2 linked regions of the Homo sapiens genome follow. The protein of the gene in region 2 interacts with the protein of the main gene of each other region in a pairwise test. Each region holds a gene or a part of one and is shown on either strand. Other genes may lie near its edges.

Region 1 (3,450 bases), on a different chromosome or scaffold from region 2:
TGAGATCATAGGATGCCCACAGAATGAGTAGGCACTTGCCCAGATTATCTCCTTATACTGATTCCTACCAAACGTTCTTCATTCTTTTTTTTTTTTTTTAAAAGAACTTTGCCCATTTTCCCAGAGGAGATCCTGCCTCTGTCTTGTTATTTCATTACTTCCTTCTCTGTTCTAATATTGACTTTACTTTTTGGAATGTCTCACCTATACTCACCAACAGGTGCTCTAGGAACTGGCAACCTGTTAATCAGGCTCTAAATCCATGTTAAATGAAACTGGTATCTTTTGTGACTTATCTTTCCTCGCCTAGTCCCTTGAGCCACTCCCAGCTCACTCGCCCCCAAACCTGTCTCTCATCCTTAATTCCTGAATTCTTAGTCTTGGACTTCTGTTATAGTTCACATTCACAGTTGTGGGCAATTTGATTAAGAAGCAGTTCTGAAGTTGACTGCCAAAGTATCCTCCAATTCTTAAAAATTAGTTATTCTGAAAACACTATCTATCATGAACACTTTGGACCTTTGGAAAGAACTTTCTTTCTTTCTTTCTCTTTTTTTTCTTCTTTCCCTCCCTCCCTTCTTCCTTTCCCATTTTCTTTTGCACTGGGCAGTGGCCCTAGGGAGAACTTATCTTCAAAGGCAGATTGGTGGTTGGGGGTGGGATAAGAAGCAGGAGTCCCACAGGCTGACTAGCCTTTTTGCAATTGGGCCACTGTCCTGCACACATTTTTCTCTTTGTCATACCATGCTGTATTATGGGGATATGGCAACCTGACTACATTCACAACTTTTCTGGTCTTATGGTTCCTTAACTTTGCCTAGGTTTTTCTTCCTGTCTCCAGTGACAGAGAGAAATCACCCCTGGGGTTCCCAAAGGTGCATCCCCGTCATCATCTTCACTCACTGCATCTTGAAGCATATGGATGAAACCCAGCAGGCTTATCGCATAGCTTGTGGTCTGCCCTGGGGAGCCAAGGACCAAGAGCCAGAGAGATGAGAATCAAGATAAAAATAGGTGAACTACCACCTACCAAGTAGATGACTACATAGGAATGGATGTGTGGGCAAGTGGAGCCGTCTGTGTGTGTGTGTGTGTGTGTGTGTGTGTGTGTGTGTGTGTGTATTGAAGACAAGGGCAGGGGTTCCAGACCTCCCTGCATTTGAGCCCCATGCCCTCTCTTAGCATACACACAGCCTCCCAGGTACAAACAGTGCCCTGTTTGGAAAGTAAACATGCCATAGCAATCCTGGCACCTCTGTGAAGTGACTTAGATGCCCACATGCACCACCTACAATGCTACCTGAGTGATGAATGTCTCTGGGATGTGAGTGTCAGCTGAGCACGTCTGTTGGGAAATGGGCCCCTCCCAAGAGCCTGAACCTGAATACTTCTTATAAAAAGGTTCTCTGGCTGGACGCTGCTCAATCCACTGCCTAGCAGGTGGCCCATTCCAGTTGGAGAACGTAGTGAGTCTTTCAGTGGAGCCAGGGTCTGGTAAGTCTCCTAGCAGGGTCTGGGGGAGAGGGTGGGATGAGTTGAGGGCACAGGGGAGGAGCAAACAGAACACAGGCAGCAGATAGATGTGGAAGGGGTGTCCCGCAAGGCACCTACGCTTCTAGTGAGCCAACCTCTTAAGGTACTAATGAGGACATAAAGGCAACATAGGAGGTGGTTTTTGCAAGGGTACACAGCAAGTCCGCAGAAGAGCTGTGACTAGAACCCAGGTCTTTCAGCTCCCTGGATGGGGTTATTTATATTGGCACAACTCTCCTTTCCCACATGGTTGTGGGGCATGAGAGGCGTAGGCAAGAAAGAATGATCAGGACATGCTTCTGGCCTGTGGATTATTTAGACCCAGCAGGTGGGACCGCCTGTTGGACTTGGGTGTTTTCTAACTGATGGGGGTGTAGTAACTAGGAAGATACAGTCGAAGGTCGGTAGGAAAGTAAAATGAGGGACAAGAAAAAAGCCAAGTGGAGATTTTGGACTGGATCATACAGATAAGTTGCCGCAGTGTGCTGTTTATTTTCCACTGTGGAGAACTTGAGCAGTCTTCTTCTAGTCAGAGAAAATGGAAATGCATTGATTCATTGCATGGATTGTGTCCTGCTCTGAGCATGTTTAACTCACTGGAAACACCTGCTTGGATTTGCTTCTTTGCGTCCGCTCTTTCTGGGTGCTTTTCCCTCCTTGTCCCAGGCCAGGCTGACTTGTACACTAAGCCGAATCTCAAAAGCCCAGACAGAGTTCCATTGGTGGAAAGAAAAAGCCGGCTCGCCTTTGAAAGGCTGCCTTTCTTCCAGGTTTGTCGTGAGGAGCTCCGCGATGTCCTCTCAACAGAGCGCCGTTTCCGCCAAAGGCTTTTCCAAGGGGTCGTCCCAGGGCCCCGCTCCGTGTCCCGCCCCGGCGCCCACCCCGGCGCCCGCCTCCTCCTCCTCCTGCTGCGGCTCCGGCAGGGGCTGCTGCGGCGACTCAGGCTGCTGCGGCTCCAGCTCCACCAGTTGCTGCTGCTTCCCAAGGAGACGCCGCCGACAGCGGAGTAGTGGTTGCTGCTGCTGCGGGGGCGGCAGCCAGAGGTCCCAGCGCTCCAACAACCGGAGCTCAGGATGCTGCTCCGGCTGCTGAGAGGCCCGCAACCCCCAGCGCTGCGCTAGAGAAACCCGCCCAGCCCAGAGCGGGCCCGCCCCGCTGCGGCTCCCACGCGGGGCTGGGCCTCGGAGTTTGCCCCGTAAAGCGAATTGCACTTTGATGTTCAGAAACCCACTTTGTTCTCAGCCACGCAAAACTCCCTGACCCCGATGTGATTTTTCTCCCCGGGGATTCGAGAGCCATGCGTGGGACACTGGACCCTACTGTCTACACGGGCTTGCACACAGCAGGTGCTCAGCAAATGTCTATTGATTTGATTGTCTTTTGAAGATGTCATAATAAAGCTTCTACCTCCTGAGAACACCTTTTATTTGTTCTTCATTCGTTTCTCCACCCAGGTAGAAAGGCTTGAAATGTTTGTGAAAGGCAGAATACTATAATTCATGCCTGAACAAGAAGGTGGCTTTCTGATAGTTAATTATGATAGCAGCGATCACATATCGACTGTTTCGAGTATTTTAAGGATTTTATGCGACAAAGTCCTTGAATATTCTCAGGACTTTATGTGGCACAATCTGATTCTCATAATGACTTGCGTAGGAGAGTGCAATTATACCCATTTTACAGAAGAGAAACTGAGGTTAAGTAATTTGTTCAAAGTCACCCAGCTGGCGCATGATAAAGAAGACAGGACATCTGATTCAAGGGCTTCATTGCTCTGCTGAGTTCTCACCTGGGCTTCCCAAGCCTTACCACTGAGGTGCTCCTCCCGACCACCAGGTCCAGGCAGCTGTGTGGTAAAAGTTTGTTTTGGCAACTCTTTGGGGCTTTGGAATCAAGCCAGCTGTCTTCTTTTTTTTT
Region 2 (3,500 bases):
GCTTTCATGTCATTAAATTTTTTTTTGTTTTTTAATGAAAGCTTTTTTGTTTTGTTTTTACAAAAGCAATGCTTACTCACTGCAGAAAATAAACATGCAAAAAGAAGCACATAAAAGAACCCATCAGCTCATCTGCTAGTTTGCCATTTATTGATCAGGACTAACTAGATTCTTCCTCTTGGAAAATTTCCAAGATTGATTCCCTCCGCCTCCAAGTTCAGAGCAGGATTTGGAAAAGTAAATATTAATAATGTACCTAGATCTGATTTTTAAGAGGTTCCAGGATGAAATAGAAACCATTTTTCTATACAGCTGCATTTTCTGATGGCTCTTGGTTCAGTGTGGAGCCCAAAGTCCTCCCATATAGCTTTTTCTGTCAAGAATTTAGCAGTTGCTTGGTGGGTTTTGCACAAGTTACTTTTCTATATCAAAATGGATACCAATAATAGGTTTTTGAAAACTTAATAAATATTTGTAAAGTACCTAATATGTAGCTAAATCAATAAATATTTGTAAAGTACCTACTATGTAGCTAGAACTGTGCCTGGGTACTGTACGGAGTGCCAATGAAGGAGGACCTGTCCTAAATTTATAGTCTTATTAGCATTAGTGCTCTAGCTGTGCCAGTTTGACTTTGTAACTTTATAACTCTATCCCAGCTTCACCCATAACCTTTTAAAAACAGCAGCTTTAGAATAAGTACAGAAAAGGATTCTTAGAGGCTATATATTGGTCTTTTTCATAGAGATTAAATTATGCTGGTGTTTATTTGGATGAATTGTAACTGACCAGACAACTTTCCGAAGAGAAGCTATATGATTTAGAGGTGTTATAAAGTGGATAGTGGGTGAAAATCCTTTCTTTATATAATTGCCTAATTATGGTCCTTTTGTGATATCATAGATTTCAGGATTCTTCTGTGGTTATTGATTCTTATAACTAGCTTGACTTCTGTTTTTTGGTTTGTTTGTTTGTTTTTTTAGGGTTCAGAATTTTTTTTTTTTAGGTTTGAGGCTTTTCTGGGTGGGAAAAACCTCACAGAAATATTCTTAGTGTATGTTACTGGTAGGAGCCTCTCCCTTCCACACGTTTACTGAATGCCTATTGTGTCCCAGCCACTATATTAGGTGAAAGGGACAGAGGAATGGATAAGACAGATGAGGTTCCTGCTCTCATGGAGCTTACATTTTAATGGGAGAAGAAAGCTCAACAGATAAATAATATAATGTCAGATAGTGATAAACACTATGAAGAGGCCGGGCATGGTGGCTCACGCCTGTAATCCCAGCACTTTGGGAGGTCAAGGTGGGCAAATCACCTGAGGTCAGGAGTTCGAGACCAGCCTAGCCAACATGGTGAAACCCCATCTCTACTAAAAATACAAGGGCATGGTGGCCAGCACCTGTAGTCCCAGCTACTCGGGAGGCTGAGGCAGGAGAATTGCTTGAATCCAGGAGGTGGAAGTTGCAGTGAGCCGAGATCATGCCACTGTCCTCCAGCCTGGGGGACAAGAGCAAAACTCTGTCTCAAAACAAAACAAAACAAAAACACTATGAAGAAAATTACACAGGTAATGAGAAAGGAGAATGAGTAGATGATAGGAATGGGTGATGGTGGATGATCCTTCTTTATATTATGTGGTCAGAGGGCCTTCCGTTATCGGGTGACATTTGGGCAGAGACCTGGGTGTTGGCAGGAGGCCAGCCATGTGACCATCTGGGGAAATAGGAATAAATCTTATCATTTGCAAAATCTTAGGTTACTAGCCTATTTTCCACGCTTTTTTGTTTCCCCCTAGTTTTAGTCAAGTCTCTCCTATGGTAGCAGTCTCTAAGAGCAGAGACGATCTTATGTACTGTTACTTCCCATTGCCTACCTAGCATAGGGTCTGGTACATGGTTAACCCGTAGTGAATTTTTGTTGAAGATATTCATTGGTGGGCACTAGGGATATGGTGGTAAACTAGACTCATTTAGTCTCCTTTTTCTTCCATGAATTTTAAATGATGTTTTGCAAGAAGTTCTTTTGGATTGAAAACTTCAAGATCAGTGCTAAGCAGTACGGATAATTATACAGTAATTTACTAATGTATAATCCCATATAATAATGCTAGTTTCTTACCTGTACTCCTTCAGATATACCTCCGTAGTCTCGAAGGGGGTAATATGGAGAATTAGGAGTTCCTTGGTGAGGAGAGTTAGGTTTTCACAAAGTTAGGTTTTCTCTGAGAGAAAACAAGCACTAAGATTTTTCTATAGGCTTAACACATTTCATTTAACTGATAACTTTGATTTCGAGGTTCTGCCAAATTATTCTAGTTATAATAGAGATACTGTAAAGGACTGAAAAATTCTGAACCCTAAAAAAAAACAAAAAAAAAACGAAAAACAGAAGTCAAGCTAGAAGATAAGAAAGGACAGGCTTGTTAGTTTGTTAGTCATTGATTATCACATCTGATAGGGTTATAGATATTCAAATATGTCCCAAATACCAGATTAGTTTGTTAGTCATTGATTATCATATCTGATAGGGTTATAGATATTCAAATATGTCCCAAATATCAGATTGTCACATCTGATAGGGTTATAGATACTCAAATATGTCCCAAAAGAACAGCTTTCTTCCCCTATATCTTTGGGTAGATTTTGTCTATAACCAAGCATTATTTCGTAGCACTGGAGCTGATTTAAATGACCCTTGATGCAGGAAGGCTGCTCTTCTTTCTGTAGTGCAAAAGTATTCTGATCATAATTTCTTATTAAAGTGATCAGAGATCCCCTCAGACCCAAAAGTATACTTTATAAGTACTTGTTGGTATCCTGCTGTGCATTGTGAAAGAATTCTGGAGGTGTGCCAAACACTGCTCAACAATAAGCACTTTCCATTAGTTGAGTAGTGTTGAATCTTGTTTCCTTACCCACTCTTTGGCCTTAACAAATTAAGTCATTTTATAGCTTAAAAACATATTTTTATTAACTTTTAATACTCTTTTTCATGTGTTCAACATTCTTACTTTAAAATCATATTGCTTTTCTCCTTTAAGAAACTTACCAAAAGCAAGGGTATAAAGTAACTGAATGCAATGAGTGTACCTATTATTAGGAATTATAAAGGAGAAACAGTTAATCTGACTTAAACTTGTAGGAAAACCATCACTCTGAATAGAAAACAAAGATAAATAGGTACCGTATGCCTCTGTGTCCTGTATTTTAAAAAGACCTTTTGCTCAACATCATTCTAAATTCATGAGTTTGAGGACAAGAGTCCAGAATTTAATATGATGAAAGTAAACATAAAGCTAAAACTTGGGAAGGTTCCCTTTAGGTGCTGTGTTTACTAAAAAGGAGACTTGTAAATTGGTATCTAACTTGTTTGGCAAATTTCTTTTAGCTCTGAAGGGTTTATATGCTTTCAAAGAACCTATTGGAGAAATATGCACTATAATTCTAAACAAGGGTAACTTGCCCAAAGTCTCACAGCTAGGAAGTTGGACTGCCAGA

The links. Proteins that work in one complex are often made in the same cells at the same time.
Region 1: the proteins of LAMP2 (region 2) and CRCT1 interact in binary tests that used the Homo sapiens proteins (3 or more experiments, as listed by UniProt).

The regions. Positions count from the first base shown.
Region 1 is NC_000001.11:152,513,059-152,516,508, forward strand, and holds CRCT1 (cysteine-rich C-terminal protein 1), read left to right. Parts: upstream 1-1,423; 5' UTR 1,424-1,494; intron 1,495-2,199; exon of another isoform or gene 2,200-2,303; 5' UTR 2,304-2,325; coding exon 2,326-2,625; 3' UTR 2,626-2,950; downstream 2,951-3,450.
Region 2 is NC_000023.11:120,462,797-120,466,296, reverse strand, and holds part of LAMP2 (lysosome-associated membrane glycoprotein 2 isoform A precursor), read left to right. Parts: intron 1-3,500. UniProt on the Homo sapiens protein: Lysosomal membrane glycoprotein which plays an important role in lysosome biogenesis, lysosomal pH regulation and autophagy.